Regions from separate parts of the Homo sapiens genome. Here all the other regions are linked to region 1. The links come from fine-mapping of genetic effects on gene expression. A gene starts in region 1. Each other region holds a variant in brackets. All regions are shown on one strand. Distances are between the middles of the regions. Region 1 holds the start of NXN (nucleoredoxin). Region 2 overlaps NXN (nucleoredoxin). Region 3 overlaps NXN (nucleoredoxin). Region 4 overlaps NXN (nucleoredoxin).

What was found. PIP is the estimated chance that this variant, and not a neighbour inherited with it, causes the effect. A credible set is the group of variants that fine-mapping cannot tell apart.
Region 2: its variant is the best candidate, but not a certain one, in a credible set for the expression of NXN in monocytes after R848 (Quach 2016, PIP 0.56).
Region 3: its variant is the best candidate, but not a certain one, in a credible set for the expression of NXN in tibial artery (GTEx, PIP 0.70).
Region 4: its variant is the best candidate, but not a certain one, in a credible set for the expression of NXN in aorta (GTEx, PIP 0.65).

The regions. Positions count from the first base shown.
Region 1 is chr17:977,704-981,862 of GRCh38, forward strand. NXN (nucleoredoxin) reads right to left here and starts at 2,073. Exons shown (of 8, transcript NM_022463.5): 1 at 1,616-2,073. The coding sequence starts at 1,975. RefSeq lists enhancers at 986-1,921, 3,346-3,640.
Region 2 is chr17:914,625-918,783 of GRCh38, forward strand. The region is part of intron 1 of NXN (nucleoredoxin); the gene reads right to left. Among named protein-coding and RNA genes, the nearest start is that of NXN, 63 kb to the right of the region's middle. RefSeq lists an enhancer at 3,905-4,159. The variant A/C (reference allele first, on the strand shown) is at 1,826.
Region 3 is chr17:949,169-953,327 of GRCh38, forward strand. The region is part of intron 1 of NXN (nucleoredoxin); the gene reads right to left. Among named protein-coding and RNA genes, the nearest start is that of NXN, 29 kb to the right of the region's middle. RefSeq lists an enhancer at 600-1,492. The variant C/G (reference allele first, on the strand shown) is at 1,909.
Region 4 is chr17:862,792-866,950 of GRCh38, forward strand. All of the region lies in intron 1 of NXN (nucleoredoxin), which reads right to left. Among named protein-coding and RNA genes, the nearest start is that of MRM3, 83 kb to the left of the region's middle. The variant G/A (reference allele first, on the strand shown) is at 2,204.

The DNA of each region.
Region 1 (4,159 bases):
GAAACTTGCCGTAACAATGAAAATGTTTTTTGGCAAATCCCTTTCTGAACATTATTTCTCCACGAACGTATCACAAAAACCACCACCAAGGAAAACAAAGGATTCTCGTATTTTGAATCAAAAAGTACTGGCCATGCATATTCATACTATATCAAGCATGTCAATCAAAATGGGCAAAATAACCTAAAAAGCAGTAAAAATGCCAACTCTTGCCTCTGAGTGGTTAGTGAACCTATGTTTTCCCAATATGAAATTTACAAACTGCATCGGATCAACTGTATTTCATACTTTAAATCTCGAATCTCTACCTCCCACTGCTTCGGGATGGATGATTTACTCAAGACATTTGGGGTCACAGTGTAAGCCTTTTGCTCCCAGTAAATCTAAATCATGCTTCTCAACAAGATTCTGCACATATAAAAGGAACACGTGGCACGCCTCGCCATGCTCCCCAGAGGAAACTAAACGCCCCCAGAATAGCCCTTCTGTCCACTCCAGAAACAGGCTTTCCTCAAAAAGGGAAAGGGGCTGGATTCACACGTTGCATCATATACACTCACGAAGCAACAGCGCTCCAAAACTTTTTCTGACTCCATTCATTACAAAATGTCCTGGATGTGCTTTATTATCACAGAGACAGACATCCTCACCCAAGGGACACACTCAGAAACCCAAACTCAACTCGGCAGCAAACTGGGAGACACGAGAAGTTGACAGCAAAGTATCCATTTCCCCAAATCCTCCTTCTTCCAGTCAATGTGCATCGATGGGGTCAGCTCAGCCCTTAACTCGAAGACCCCGGGACCACAGGGGCCACCACGCAGCTGAGCTCTGCACAGCCCGGGCTGTTCCCGCGCCCGGGAGGCGTCTGGGGAGGAGGCTGGACGGCCAGACAATGCAAAGCTCCCCGGTGGCCGCGAACTCAGCCTGGGGCGGGGGAGGCGGGGGCGGGAGACGGAGCCGTGAGCGCCCTTCTCGGCCACAGCCACGGCCACGGTCACCGGCCGCCTCTCCTGACCTCGGCCTCGGCCCCCAGGTCCCCGGTCCCCGGGGAAGGGGCTCCGGGAAGGCAGGTTTCTCCCGGAAAGAAAGGAAACGCGCTGGTTTGGGCGCCACGGGCGGGGGGCGTGCGCCCTCCCCTCCCCTCCCCTCCCCACTGTGGGAATCCGCGGGGGTCGGCGGCGGAGGCAGGAAGGGCCTGGCGCCTCTGCTCGCGGGTGAAGGGGTCGCGGAACCGGGATCCCCGAGCGCAGCCGCCCCCACCCGAGGCTCCCAGCGTGTGCGGACGGAGGGGCTCGAGCCGGGATCCCGGGGGCCGAGGGGGGTCCAACTTTCCAGGGCGGGCGCAGCGCAGCACTCGAACCAAAGAGGGGTCCTGGGATGAGGGTGCGGGCACAGCGCGGAAGGGGGGGGGGCAGAGGCGGGGACGGCGGGGTGGGGGGCGGGGAGAGGACAGTGGGTCGGGGGGCGGGGGACTGGGGGCAGGGGTCGGGGGGTGGAGGGCGGGCAGGGGGACAACGGGGTTGGCGGAGGGCAGGGGTAACGGGCGTGGGGGGCGGGCAGGGGTAACGGGCGTGGGGGGCGGGCAGGGGCCGGCGAGGCCCGCGCCGCTCACCTTCCTGTGCTTCTCCTTGTAGGGCAGCGCCAGCCACGGCATGTCCCGCACGAAGTCCTGCCACTGCCGCTGGTCCTGGTCCGAGGACACGAAGACGATCTCCAGGCGCCGCCGCGGCTCGGGCTCCGCCGCCGCCCCGGCCCCCGCTCCCGGCCCCGGCCCGGCCGCCGCGTCCCCCCGCAGGCGCCCGTAGAAGGCGGCCAGGCTGGCGCTGAGCTGCGCGCAGGGGGCGCTGAGGCTGCAGCCGAAGTAGAGACCCAGCAGCGAGATGCCGCGGGCGCCCAGCGAGTGCACGTCCACCTCCTCGCCGCCGCCCGTCACCAGCTTCTCGCCGAGCAGCTCCTCCAGGAAGCCCGACATCCTGGCCCACCGCAGGGCGGGCAGGCGGCTGCGACCCCGCTCCACGGTCCGCGCGGCGGGAGGAGGCGGCGGCGTCGGCGGCAGGCGCTGGGGAGAGCAGAGCCCGGCCCAGTAGGGCCGCCCACGCCACGCCCCCTCCGCCTGCCCGCGCCACGCCCCTTCCCCCGCCCTGCCACGCCCCCTCCGCGGCCCGCGCCACGCCCCTTCGGCTGCCCTCGCCACGCCCCTCCGCCCGCCCTCGCCACGCCCCCTCCGCCCTCGCCACGCCCCGTTTGCGGCCGGCGGTGGCCAGAGCTCTCCGCCCAGGCGGGGTCCGCAGCTGCCGGCCGCGGTGCGCGGGGTGACTGCTTGGGCGAGAAGCCGGACCCGAAACGCCGCACTCTCCCTGGAAAGCCCACGGCCGAAGTGAAGAAAGGAGAAGGGCCCGCTGAGCCGGCGCTTTCCCGGGCTGCAGCCCGGCCCGCATTTTCTCTCCTCCCCAGTTCTAAATTCCCTCCAGACCTCCAGGGATCCCGCCCCCTCCCCGCGGAGCTCTTCACCCTCTTCCTGTTCCTCCCCGGCCTTTCCCTCCTCCTCTCCCTGCACGAAGCCTGACCCTTAGGCCGCTCCGGGCCCCACTGACCCTGAGATGCTTATAGGACCCGCCGTCCTCACTGCATCAGGCCGGGCCTGGCTGGACACTGACTCCTCTGTGTGTTCCAAGCTGTTCTAAGGGGGCCGAGGACGCCCTCGCAGCTTCTGGTGGGGTCTGGTTAGGGTGCCAGGTCTCAGTGTGGGATTTCCGTCCAGGGGTCGCCGGGGCCTCTCCCCCCAGCGAATCTGTCTTCCAGCCCCACAAATGGATGCAAAGGACGCCGCGGGGCCTCCAGACCAATGCTGGCCGCGCTCCTGAATCCGCTCCATCCTCATGTCAAGTCTATGGATAGTTGAGAACATTTCTAGAGATTTTTTTTTTCCTACCAGCTGGCAGGATGCTCCCCAATGCTTAGGGAGAAGCTGGATTAAACAGGTGGTCTGGGCCGGGCGCGGTGGCTCACGCCTGAATTCCCAGCACTTTGGGAGGCCGAGGTGGGTGGATCACAAGGTCAGGAGTTCGAGACCAGCCTGGCCAATATGGTGACACCCCCCCCCCGCCTCTACTAAAAATACAAAAATTAGCGGGGTGTAGTGGCAGGCACCTGTAATCCGAGCAACTCAGGAGGCTGAGGTAGGAGAATGGCGTGAAGCCGGGAGACGGAGGCTGCAGTGAGCCGAGATCGCTCCATTGCACTCCAGCCTGGGCAACAGAGCAAGACTCCGTCTCAAAAAAAACAAAAAAACAGGTGGTCCGTGGCGAGTACTCTGGCCACGCAGCGCCTCCCCCCAACCCAACCCACTGGTGCACGAAGCAGGTGCAGATCCGGGCCCAGCCACAGTAACAGGCCGCCGGTGTGGATCAGCTACTGACGACTCAGCGAAAGCAAAAAAATAAAAGCTGAAAACCCGCCCCTCTCAGAGCTTCCACCGCCGCTTCGGAGGATATTTCCTGTGCATCCATCGCCACCTAATGGAAAGAGTGAAAAATGAGGCCGACCAAACTCCATTTGTGAAAAGACACTGCCGGGACACCAGGCACAATGCTTTTATTTTACAGCAGCTTTCCACATACACAAATGATAGGACGCTTTGCGGGAGCTAATTTAAACCTCAGAATAGAACTTCAAGCTTTTGGCACAAAACGTAAGTGTTCACATCGAAGGTTCTCCGTTTTTCTAGGGTAGAATAAGGAATGGTGCAGGGTTCCAGCTTGGTGAAATGTTACCATATAAAACAATTGGGAGAGGTGGAGATGGGAGCGGAAAGTGGACTGGCGTCTCTACAAGTTATATCCACTTCCTTAGTCACCTGCTGGTATTGCTAATGACACAGGTAAGATCTTAGATGGAGGACCGCCTTCGAACACCCTAGAATCCTACTGCAAAGTCGAATTCCACCTTAATTCTCAGGAGACTTTCATGCTGAAAGTCTGTGCCACTGTAGGGACAATATTATAAAACACACACAGAAAGCATCACTTTTTAGTGAAAACTTTATTTATTTATTTATTTATTTATTTATTTATTTTGAGACAGTGTGGGCGGCAGGCCACCCAGGCGCTGAGGCAAGAGACCGAGGACACAAGCCGTTCCAGTGTAATAAAATATA
Region 2 (4,159 bases), 63 kb before region 1:
TGTGCTGAGCATCGAACCAGGCGGAGACAAAGATGAGGAGCAGAGACTCGCTTCTGACCTTCAAAGAGTCCACAGTCCATTGAGTGAGGTCATTAACTCAGCAAGCGAGTTAACAGGGAGCGTACCGTGATGTGGGAAGCAAGACTGTTGGGTGTAGAGGAGGCGGAGCTGGATGTGGGGAACCAGGGCTTCCCCTGGAGGAGCTGATGAGTGCGTGGAACCAACAGCACAGGCAAATAAAGCAAGCAAGTGAGATGAGTTTTCCTAAAATATTAAAGGGGGTGAAATCGCAGACACTTGTACTGGAAAAATTTCAGAGTTGATTTTTTTTTTTAGACAAAGTCTCGCTCGCCAGGCTGGAGTGCAGTGGTGCGATCTCGGCTCACTCCAACTTCTGCCTCCCAGGTTCAAGAGATTCTCCTGCCTCAGCCTCCCAAATAGCTGGGAATACAGGCACCCGCCACAACGCCAAGCTCATTTTTTGTATTTTTAGTAGAAATGGGGTTTCACCATATTGGCCAGGCTGGCCTCGAACTTCTGACCTCGTGATAGGTCCACCTCAGCCTCCAAAAGTGCTGGGATTACAGGCGTGAGCCACTGCACCCGGCCAGTTGAGGATTTTATAGTTGAGAATAAGTGGGATTATGATTAGCATGACCTCTAGGAATTCTTTCTCTCTTTCTTTCTGAGATAGAGTCTCACTCTGTCGCCCAGGCTGGAGTCATCTCGGCTCACTGCAACCTCCACCTCCTGGGCTCAGACAATCCTCCTGCCTCCGCCTCCCAAGTAGCTGGGACTACGGGAGTGTGCCATCACACCCAGCTAATTTTTGTATTTTTTTGTAAAGACTGGGTTTTGCCATGTTGCCCAGACTGGTCTCAAACTCTTGGGCTCAGGCAATCAACCTGCCTCAGCCTCCCAAAGTGCTGGGATTACAGATATAAGACACCACACCTGGACTCTAGGAAATTATTTCTAAGAAAGGAGTAAAAGTGAGAATGAATGAGTACATAGTGTAACGCTTCCGAGCTTTGGTGCAGGAGGAAAGTAAATAACAAGGATACCCCAGGGCTGGAAACTTGGCAATAAACCAAGAAGGCAGAGACCAGTTAGTGCAACACTAAAATGCCTGACCACTTATGGGGCCAGAGCTGGGGCTTCCAGGTGAAACTTCCCCTAAAATGGGCGGCCACTTATGGTGTCAGAGCCGAAACTTCCCCTAAAATGGGCGGCCACTTATGGTGTCAGAGCTGGAACTTCCAGCTGCTCCCCCTCTCCCAGTTCTTTTGTCCTTGTCCCTAGAGTTTTGGTCTCCAAGCAATCGGTTCTGTGTTTTTGTTTGTAGGCTCAATTTTAAACCACATTTTGTAAAGGCACTTCTCAAAAGGCAAAGATAAAAACACTGAAGCTCTTAAGAGCGCCTGTCTGGCTGCCAAGCCATTGTTCTACTCAAATGTCGAATGAAAAGGGAGAAACAGAATGATGATTGTATTTGAATTGCTTCCAAGGAAAAGTAACCTCCAGCAAAACTCTAGGCCCACTTTGCTAGAAATCCTGGCACGTCGGCAACAGAAATGGAGGCAGAAAATTGCATCTTTCAGAAAGCAGAGTATCAAACAGGAAAAGCCACAAGGAGTGAGGTGCTGTGAGGTTCCCGTGGTGCAGGATCCATTTTATCCTTTCTACTTCTTCCTGCTGAAAATGAGATTATTTAAAACAATTTAAAAGACAATTTTCCCTGCAAGGGGCCTTTTGGAAATGAGTCAAAGTCAAATCCCTTGTTTTACGTAAAATTAACGTATGACATTTCAAAGTTACCAAACTA[A/C]AAAAAAGGAAAATAAATATAAACACATTCCAAAACTTAAAAATGAAGGAGATTTCAGACAGTCCCTCCTGGTAAAATGTGAAATTGCACCCCAGCTGCAGTAGCTACTGTAAATATCCAAGGAATCAGTTTTAAGTGTTTGGGGATCCCAGGGATCCCTGCAAAGCACTCAGGATTTTAACATTAAGCTCACAAATTACAGCAGCTGGCCGGGCACGGTGGCTCACGCCCGTAATCCCAGCACTTTTGGAGGCCGAGGCAGGTGGATCACCTGAGGTCTCCACTAAAAATACAAAAAACTAGCCAGGTGTGGTGGCGGACATCTGTAATCCCAGCCACTTCGGGGGCTGAGGCAGGAGAATCACTTGAACCCGGGAGGTGGAGGTTGCAGTGAGCTGAGGTTATGCCATTGCACTCCGGCCTGGGCAACAGAGAGAAACTTCATCTCTAAAAAAAAATTACAGCAACCAACAGGCCTCTAGGTTAGTTACCACCCTAACCTCTTCGTTGTAAATTTTCAAACCACCTTGAAGGTGGGTATTTTTGGTGGGTCTTTATCTTCATTCATTAATCACATTATCAGACATTCCCTGTGTGTCCTGTTCTGTTATACATGCTGAAGCTACAAATCAAACATCCGCTTTGCCTCCAACAAGATTCCCTGTTCCTAAGTGAACCAAGGAATGAGGTGTTCCACGCCTGAGCTCACATCTTTTTTTTTTTTTTCTGTAGCCCAGGCTGGAGTGCAATGGCGCGACCTCGGCTCGCCGTGGCCTCCGCCTCGCGGGTTCAAGCGATTCTCCTGCCTCAGCCTCCCGAGCAGCTGGGACTACAGGCGCCCGCCACCATGCCCAGCTAATTTTTTGTATTTTTAGTAGAGACGGGGTTTCACCATGTTGGCCAGGCTGGTCTCAATCTCTTGACCTCGTGATCCGCCTGCCTTGGCCTCTGAAAGTGCTGGGCCTCTGAAAGAACAGGCGGGAGCCGCCGCTCACATCTTTACTCATGAACCTAAACTCACAGAGCAGCCCCACACTGTCGTCTGTGGAAACCACACCAGCTCCTCCTCTTCCTTCTGGACCTGCTGTCCCACCCTACGCCCATTTTTTATCTCCACCCACTCTTTGAACTTAGCACTGGTGTCTACAGGCTCGATTCCCAGCTCTCCCACAAGGACGTGGCTCAGACGCACGTCACCATCTCAACCCAATGTAGGCCACCCGCTGCAGGCGAGCTTCCCTACCCAATCCGACCTCCTAGACGGACACCCCAGGTTCCAGCCCTACAAGGGGCGCGTACTGGCACAACAGGCGGGCGTGGCTCTCGCTCCCCAGGAAGGCCTCGCAGAGGTGGGGACAAGGGCGGATGGGAAAGGGGATAAGCGACAGGAGAGGGGGGACTCCCGTTCCAAACAAAGGGGACTGCGTACTGGTGAAGAAGAATGTGGTCTGTATTCAGTTTTGTTGACAAGAACCCCTAATGGATAATAATAAAATGTTTACTGAGCTCGTACTTTATGGAAGACACATGGCTCACGGCAGGGCCCGGCACATCACAAAAACTCACTCCGTATTTGCAGCATAAAGGAAATCTCAGTTTCAGTTTTAAAAGTTGTGTGTCTAAACCAGAAAATAACTCATAACATGATCCTACTAAGAAGATGGGCCAAAAACAGACAAAAGAAACACGAGAACACTCAATATCACCTCCCCCAAAACAACACAGCATTTTCCTCCTGTAATCAAACAATCACAAACCAGGCTGTGCTGGGCCTGGCCGTTGTGCCAGAAACAGCCCCAGAACCCTGGGCCCAAAGGGGTCTGGTCTTGATTAAGATTATTTTCCTTTGTAACGTTCGGTTTGGAGGAAAAGGCGGGAGGGTCGGAAGGAAATGGGAGGAGCGCACGATCCATCAGCGAGTTTCATCGCAGCGTTTCATCTCCTTCGTGAACTGGGCTCAGGGAGGCCGTGACTCCCATTTCCATTTGGCTCCCGAGTCAATCACTCACTTTCATTCCAGCTACTTTTTGTCTTAATTTCTTGACTTAAAAAGGGTTTGGTTGAGGCCGGGCGCAGTGGCTCATGCCTGTAATCCCAGAAAGTGAGGCCGAGGCGGGCGGATCACCTGAGGCCAACAGTTCAAGAGCAGTCTGGCCAACACGATGAAAACCTGTCTCTACTAAAAATACAAAAATTATCCAGGCGCGGTGGTGGGCGGCTGTAATCCCAGCTACTCAGGAGGCTGAGGCACGAGAATCGCTTGCACCCGGGAGGCAGAGGCTGCAGTGAGCTGAGATCGCGCCACCGCACTCCAGCCTGGGAGACAGAGACTCA
Region 3 (4,159 bases), 29 kb before region 1:
CTCCTCCTCTCCCCGCGGCCTCCTCCTCTCCCCCCTGCCTCCTCCTCTCCCCGCTGCCTCCTCCTCTCCCCGCGGCCTCCTCCTCTCCCCGCGGCCTCCTCCTCTCCCCCCTGCCTCCTCCTCTCCCCGCTGCCTCCTCCTCTCCCCGCGGCCTCCTCCTCTCCCCGCGGCCTCCTCCTCTCCCCCCTGCCTCCTCCTCTCCCCGCTGCCTCCTCCTCTCCCCGCGGCCTCCTCCTCTCCCCGTGGCCTCCTCCTCTCCCCCCTGCCTCCTCCTCTCCCCGCTGCCTCCTCCTCTCCCCGCGGCCTCCTCCTCTCCCCGCTGCCTCCTCCTCTCCCCCCTGCCTCCTCCTCTCCCCGCGGCCTCCTCCTCTCCCCCCTGCCTCCTCCTCTCCCCGCTGCCTCCTCCTCTCCCCGCGGCCTCCTCCTCTCCCCCCTGCCTCCTCCTCTCCCCGCGGCCTCCTCCTCTCCCCCCTGCCTCCTCCTCTCCCCGTTGCCTCCTCCTCTCCCCGTGGCCTCCTCCTCTCCCCCCTGCCTCCTCCTCTCCCTGCTGCCTCCTCCTCTCCCCGCGGGCCTCCTCTGTTAGGACCCACCTCCCTGCCTCAGTCTGGAAAGGGGCAGCCACGTGAGGACCTCTGAGACCCTGGAGAGCCACTGGGCTCAGCCTGGAGCAGTGGGGGCTGGGGTGGGAAGACGCCATGCATTGTTCAGCCCCAGCATCTGCCTGGGCACCTTCTGGTAACAGTCATTTGGCCAGCAGCTTCTCGGGGGCTAACGGTCAATGCCAGAAGCAATTAGCCCCAGGTCCTGGTCCTCCTTGGAGCCAAAACAATTAGTAGGCTGAAGACAGCCTGATGCTTAAGAAATCACTTTTTTAAAAAGGAAAAAAAGATTGCTTAAAAGAAGCCCCTTAACTCTGAAGGCAGTTCCATCCACCTTACAAATTCGGTGCCCTGTGAATACACATCCATGGGTCACAGCAGGGAATCTTTTTAACTAGAAAAAGAGCAGGAGAAGGAATTCAGATCAACATCACGGACTGCAGCAGTAAAGCTGGTGCCTGTTCGCCCCTTTCCCCTCCAGGCAGGAAAGAATCAAGGAAGAATTTCAGAATCTTTTTATACAAGAAAGGGATTCGGTGGGGGAAGGGAGTGGGTACAGAGATGAAGAACTTTAGGGTTTGCTATTTCAAGCTTAAAATAAATCCCAACGAGAAAGGATCCGAAGGCTTGGTTTTATTTTTAAGATCTTATCCAAGGCAGGGAACTATATCTGGTTTTCAGGGGTGTGTGGGGTGCAAACGGCCGGGCCAGCACAGTCATTTCATCCCCTGTCGATTCCCCAAAAGCAAAACCAAAGCTCAGCATGTGCTTCTAGAACTTTCTATATCTGGTGTTCAGGGGTGGGTGGGGTGCAAACGGCCAGGCCAGCACAGTCATTTCATCCCCCGTCCGTTCCCCAAAAGCAAAGCCAGAGCTCGGCATGTGCTTCTAGAATTTTACAATCTTGAATTACGGCTTCAAAATAACTCACATTCCACTATAAGGAGGCTCAGAGGATGCCACCGAGTGGACGGACGTGAGCAGGACCACAGAGACAACCCAGTGGGACACGCAACACTGTTCCCAAGATGTTAGCAGGGGAAAGAGTCGGACGAAATGGCGAAGTGTTTGGCACAAAGAAGACCAACAAATGACACACCAAGCCAGTAAAGACACCTCCGTAAGAAAGACACATTCCTCCCCAAATCTACTTTAGGAGCTACTGCTGTCAACTCTTGACTTTCTGGAAGTCTAACTAGTACAAGGTCCAATCCTCAATCGCTTATGAAACAAAATCAGAAAAAACCGGGTAGAACCCTAGTACTCCGCATTATAAAAAGCACTTCCGGCCGGGCACGGTGGCTCACGC[C/G]TGTAATCCCAGCACTTTGGGAGGCCGAGGCTGGCAGATCTTTTGAGGTTAGAAGTTCGAAACCAGCCTGGCCAACATGGTGAAACCCTGTCTCTACTTAAAAAAAAAAAAAAAAAAAAAAAAAAAAGCTGGGCGTGGTAGCGGGCGCCTGTAAGCCCAGCTACTTGGGAGGCTGAGGCACGAGAATTGCTTGAACCCGGGAGACAGAGGTTGCAGTGAGTTGAGATCACACCACTGCACTCCAACCTGAGTGACAGAGTGAGACTCCATCTCGAAAAAAAAAAAAAAGACTGAACAGCTTCTCTTTAGAACTTTCTAACACACCCCCAGGTGGAGGCCAGTGTTGCAACGATCGCACGAGGGACCAGAGGGTAATTCTGCAGCCTGATCTCTCTGTTGAGATGCTCACGCTCTCTTTTTGCAGACATGATGTGGTTAAAGCCAGGGTCTTTCTCAATCAATACATTTTAAAAATGCGAGCTGGGGGCGGGGGCGGGGGTTGGGGGCGGGAGGGTCTGTCAGCTGTGTGGAGACAAACCTCCTGATCCAGGCGCTCTCTGGCAGAGGCGGGCAAGCCCCACTTCCATGTATGGAAGTGAATGAAAGCAGTAAAACCTCAGGCATGAGTCTGGGCAGGGCTGGGGGTGGGGGCCGGCATTCCTCCCAGCAGGGCCAGCCCCAGAGGGGCGGGCAGCAGGAACCTTCACCTGGGGTCCCGTGGGTATTTCCCTGGGAGAGCCACAGGGGCAGAGAGGACGGGAGGCAGGAAAGCAATGAGCTCGGCACACTCAGTAGACGGAGGGCACCCGGGAAGGGGAGCTCAGCCTCCCCGAGAATGCACCAGAGCCTGAGTCCTGGAAACCAGGGCCACGCAGCTCCCGCCTGCCCTGACCTCAGTCCCCTGGAATGCAGAATTCTCCACGGTCAGCCATCCATCACCACCGCTCCCTCATGGCCAGCGCTGAAAGAAGGGGCGTTTCCGTTTTTGTGGGGGGCGGTGGTGGTTGTGGTTTTTGTGGTCTGAGAAACTCATGACAGTTACCCACCTCCTGCCAGGACAAGGCCACAGGAGGTTGCAGAAAATTCAGGTCACACTGTGGGGGGGCTGGGGTCAGAGAGACCAAGGTTGGAACCCGGCAGGTACCACGGACGGTCACACTGTGGGGGGGCTGGGGTCAGACAGACCAAGGTTGGAACCCGGCAGGTACCACGGACGGTCACACTGTGGGGGGGCTGGGGTCAGACAGACCAAGGTTGGAACCCGGCAGGTACCACGGACGGTCACACTGTGGGGGGGCTGGGGTCAGACAGACCAAGGTTGGAACCCGGCAGGTACCACGGACGGTCACACTGTGGGGGGGCTGGGGTCAGACAGACCAAGGTTGGAACCCGGCAGGTACCACGGACGGTCACACTGTGGGGGGGCTGGGGTCAGACAGACCAAGGTTGGAACCCGGCAGGTACCACGGACGGTCACACTGTGGGGGGGCTGGAGTCAGAGAGACCAAGGTTGGAACCCGGCAGGTACCACGGACGGTCACACTGTGGGGGGGCTGGGGTCAGACAGACCAAGGTTGGAACCCGGCAGGTACCACGGACGGTCACACTGTGGGGGGGCTGGAGTCAGACAGACCAAGGTTGGAACCCGGCAGGTACCACGGACGGTCACACTGTGGGGGGGGCTGGAGTCAGACAGACCAAGGTTGGAACCCGGCAGGTACCACGGACGGTCACACTGTGGGGGGGCTGGAGTCAGACAGACCAAGGTTGGAACCCGGCAGGTACCACGGACGACAGGTTCCTGCTGCCCATCCCTCTGGGAGGAATGACGGCCAGCAGAGCCAGGACCCACTTCTCCGTCCTGGAAGACGCAATGAGATAATACATGAAAAGCAGTAACAAGGTGGTCCTAGAGGGGTCCTAGGCTACCCCGTGTTAAAGATGAGAGCCATGAAGACCACTTCAAGGTGGTCCCTGGAATCCAGTGAGGGGCTCAGTCCACAGAAGCCATGACTGATGATCATTATCATGGAACCCTCCAGCTCAGGGAATGTCTGAGTAGCTCCCTGAAGTCCAAACGGAAGACTATGACCCTTGGGAGGCCGAGGCGGGCGGATCACCTGAGGTCAGGAGTTTGAGACCAGCCTGGCCAACATGGTGAAACCCCATCTCTACCAAAAATAGAAAAATTAGCCAGGCATGGTGGCTCACGCCTGTAATCCCAGCTACTTGGGAGGCTGAGGCAGGAGAA
Region 4 (4,159 bases), 110 kb before region 1:
CATTCCTGCCAGAAATGTTTGGCCTGGATGTAATCACGAGGGAACCATTTGACAAATTCAGACTCTGGAAAATTCTGCAAGACAACAGACCTATGCTCTAAACGTATCAATGCTACATTTCTTGGGTATGATAACGGTATTATTGCTAGGAAGAGAACACCCTTGTTTTTAGGAGATAATGAAGGTTTAGGAATGAAATATCATGATAAATATAATCTATTTTCAAATGCCCCACAGTATACTCAGGGGATTGGTTCTGGGACCCCCACATATTCCAAAATCCGCATATACTGAAGTCCCACAATCAGCCCAGCAGAGCCTGAGTGTAGGAAAAACCAGCCTCTGCATACATGGGTTTCACATCCTGCGAATACTGTTCTGTCTTCTTTGTTTTTTTGAGACAGAGTCTCACTCTGTCACCTGGGCTGGAGTGCAGTGGCGCGATCTCAGCTCACTGCAACCTCCACCTGGGTTCAAGTGATTCTCCTACCTCAGCCTCCTGAGTAGCTGGAACTACAGGTGCCCGCCACCACGCCCAGCTAATTTTTTGTATTTTTAGTAGAGACGGGGTTTCACCGTGTGAGCCAGGATGGTCTCGATCTCCTGACCTCATGATCAGCCCGCCTCAGCCTCCCGAAGTGCTGGGATTACAGGTGTGAGCCACCACGCTCAGCCGTGTTTTGTTTTGAGACAGGGTCTCGCTCTGTCCCCCAGGCTGGAGAGCAGTGGTACAATCACATCTCACTGCCGCCTCAACCTCCCTGGCTCAAGCGATCCTCCTGACTCAGCCTCCTGAGTAGCTGGGACCACAGGAGCATGCCTCCATGCCCAGATAATTTTTAATATTATTTGTAGAGATGGGGGTCTCTCTATGTTGCCCACGCTGGTCTTGAACTCCTGGGCTGATGCAATCCTCCTGCCTCAACCTCCCATAGTGGTGGGATTACAGGTGTGAGCCTCTGCACCTGGCTGACACTGTATTTTTGATTCACATCTGGTTGAAAAAAGTCCACATACAAATGGACCCTTGCAATTCAAATCCACGTCATTCAAGGATCAACTGTCCTTCAGGGAAAAAACATACCCACTGCTTACACAGAGCTCTGTAGAGGTTTATGTCAGGCTCATACAGTGTGTTCCCCAGATCAGCAGCAGCAATGCCTGGGAACTGAGTGAGGAAACACGTTAACCATTGCTCAGTTTCGGTGAAAGGACACAGTTACCGTTGCTGGGTTCCGGTGAAGGGACACGTCTGCCATTGCTCGGTTCCGGTGAAGGGGCACAGTTACCGTTGCTCGGTTCCGGTGAAGGGGCACGTTTACCGTTGCTCACTTCCGGTGAAGGGGCACGTTCACCGTTGCTCGGTTCCGGTGAAGGGACGCGTCTGCCGTTGCTCGGTTCCGGTGAAGGGCACAGGATGGGCATTCATGGTACTTGTCTTCAACTTTTCTGTAGGTCTGAAATTTCCCAAGATAAAAAGTTCGGAGTAGGGAGAGTAAGTCTTAATCCATTTCCTTCTCAGGGAATCAAAACCACGGTTCTTCAGAGTGTTGATTCTTAAATTTGCCAAAACGTAGGGGAGTGCTAGCTTAGATCCATCTGTGTTCCCTAGTTCCATGTCCCATGGGACAAGACACCAGCCTCAACGGTATTAGGTCAGGAGGGCGGATTGCATGGAAAGAAACAGAATCGAGGAACAAAGTGGGCTCTGCCCGTTCAAACGGCTGCCCTGGGAGTACAGGCTGTTTCTCCCTGATAAACATCGGTGAGACCAACATGAGTGTGAGGCTTTGCAGGAACTTGCCCTGCATTTCCTCCCTCTCCAGATAATTCTCTGGTCTAACATTTCAGAAGGCTTTTTACCAGACTCACCCTGAGATCCTTTCCAACCTGATTATAAGAGAAACCATCATGACCCCACTGCTCACTCTGAGGCTCCTCTAATTAACGGACCTCTAAGGAATGTGTTTGGCATTAAAGGGGCAGAGGTGGGTAAAGTTAAGGAAGCTGCTGCAAATCTCCTGAAAACGGAGGCAACCCAGGCGGTGTTCTGTCAGTCTGCTGCCCAAGGAAGGGCCAGATGCCCTGAACCCTTCTCTCTCATTCAACACGGATGAAAAGATAAAGAATCCAGAAACTAAAGGGCAGATTCTAGAATTTACCTCCTGCTTAAGCTGTCCTGGCAGTCAGGCTCCTGGATCTC[G/A]GAACTAGAACCACGCCTGGTTTATGTAAAATCAGGAGATGGGACTAAACAGATCATCTCGTCCACACTGATTGAACAGAGGAGAAAAGCACAACTCCCAGAAGTCATCTTTCTCGCTCGATATTGTCCATCTCCCCTCCCTGTGCTCCTTCAGTGGAAGCGCATTGGGTGATATCCTCTGTATTAGGTAGCAATGTTTTCTGGGCAAGGGAAACTATTGGTATTACAGGCTGGCTGACAAAAGCTGGAGTTACACTTTTTTTTTTGAGACAGAGTCTCCCTCTGTCACCCAGGCTGGAGTGCAATGGCACGATCTTGGCTCACCGCAACCTCTGCCTCCTGGATTCAAGTGATTCTCCTGCCTCAGCCTCCTGCATAGCTGGGATTACAGGCATGCACCACCACGCCCGGCTGATTTTGTATTTTTAGGAGAGACGGAGTTTCTCCATGTTGGTCAGGCTGGTCTCGAACTCATGACCTCAGGTGATCCGCCCACCTCGGCCTCCCACAGTGCTGGTATTACAGGCATGAGCCACCACGCCCGGCCGAGTTACACATTTTCTATAAAGCAATGACAGTCTCTCCCCTCCAAGAAGGACCTTGGCAATGTCTACAGAAGTCAATAATGTCCATTATTCTTTGGCTTAGCAATTCCAATTCACAGATATGCATGTGTGAAGTGTGCAGAGATAGATGTGCAACAATGTTGCTGGGCGCAGTGGCTCACGCCTGTAATCCCAGCACTTTGGGAGGCCGAGGTGGGCAGATCACTTGAGGTCAGGAGTTCGAGACCAGCCTGACCAACATGGAGAAACCCCATCTCTACTAAAAATACAAAATTAGCCGAGCGTGGTAGCACATGCCTGTAATCCCAGCTACTCAGGAGGCTGAGGCAGGAGAATCGCTTGAACCCGGGAGGTGGAGGTTGCAGTGAGCTAAGATCGCGGCATTGCACTCCAGCCTGGGCGACAGAGCAAGACTCTATCTCAAAAAAAAAGAAAAAAAAGTGTGTGCGACAATGTTTATCATAGTATTATTTGCTACAGCAAAAGGAGAAGGAAGGAGTGAAATATCCATTTATCAGGCAGTGGGCAAGTAAATTACGCTCTATATATTCAATAGAATACAATGCTGTTATTGCAACAATTAAAGCAGGTCGGCTATGCCGATAGGAAGAGACTGGCAAGATATTAGATTTTTTTTTTTAAATCAGACGTTTCTTTTGTAAATAGAACAGACAATACCCGTCACATACATGTATAAATGCACAGAAGATATTTCAGAAGGATGTATATAAGAAACTTAAGGCTGGGCGCAGTGGCTCACACCTGTAATACCAGCACTTTGAGAGGCCGAGGCAGGAGGATCACCTGCACTGAAGAGTTCAAGATCAGCCTGGGCAACATGGTGAAACGCTGTCTCTACAAAAAATACAAAAGTTGGTGGCGGGCGCCTGTAGTCTCAGGTACTCGGGAGGCTGAGGCAGGAGAACCCTTGTACCCAGGAGGCGGAGCATGCAGTGAGCTGAGATCGCGTCATTGCCCTCCAGCCTGGGCGACAGAGACCCCATCTCAATAAATAGATAAATGAACCTTAAGAGAGAGGATAGGTGAGGAGTTGTACCTCAGTAACACCCTTCAGTACCATGTACCTGTTTTAAGTACGTGCATGGAGTTCTGCTTTTATAAAGAAAGAAAAAGTCCTGGCAGCCTCTAACGTTGTTCAATTTCAGCCCAGACCCTATCAAGCAAGGACTTTTTAACTGAATCAGCAATTAAACTGCTAGATGTGGACTAATCTGGTTTGTGATCTGAAAATACATATTCTTAGTGAAACAAATGATTTGAGCATGGGTCAGGGCAAGGCCAACATTCAAATACTGCAAACCCTCAGCTGGTGCCAGCCTCAGGCTGCGGGTCAGAACATGTGAGTGGAAACAGTTCCCAGGAAAGAAAA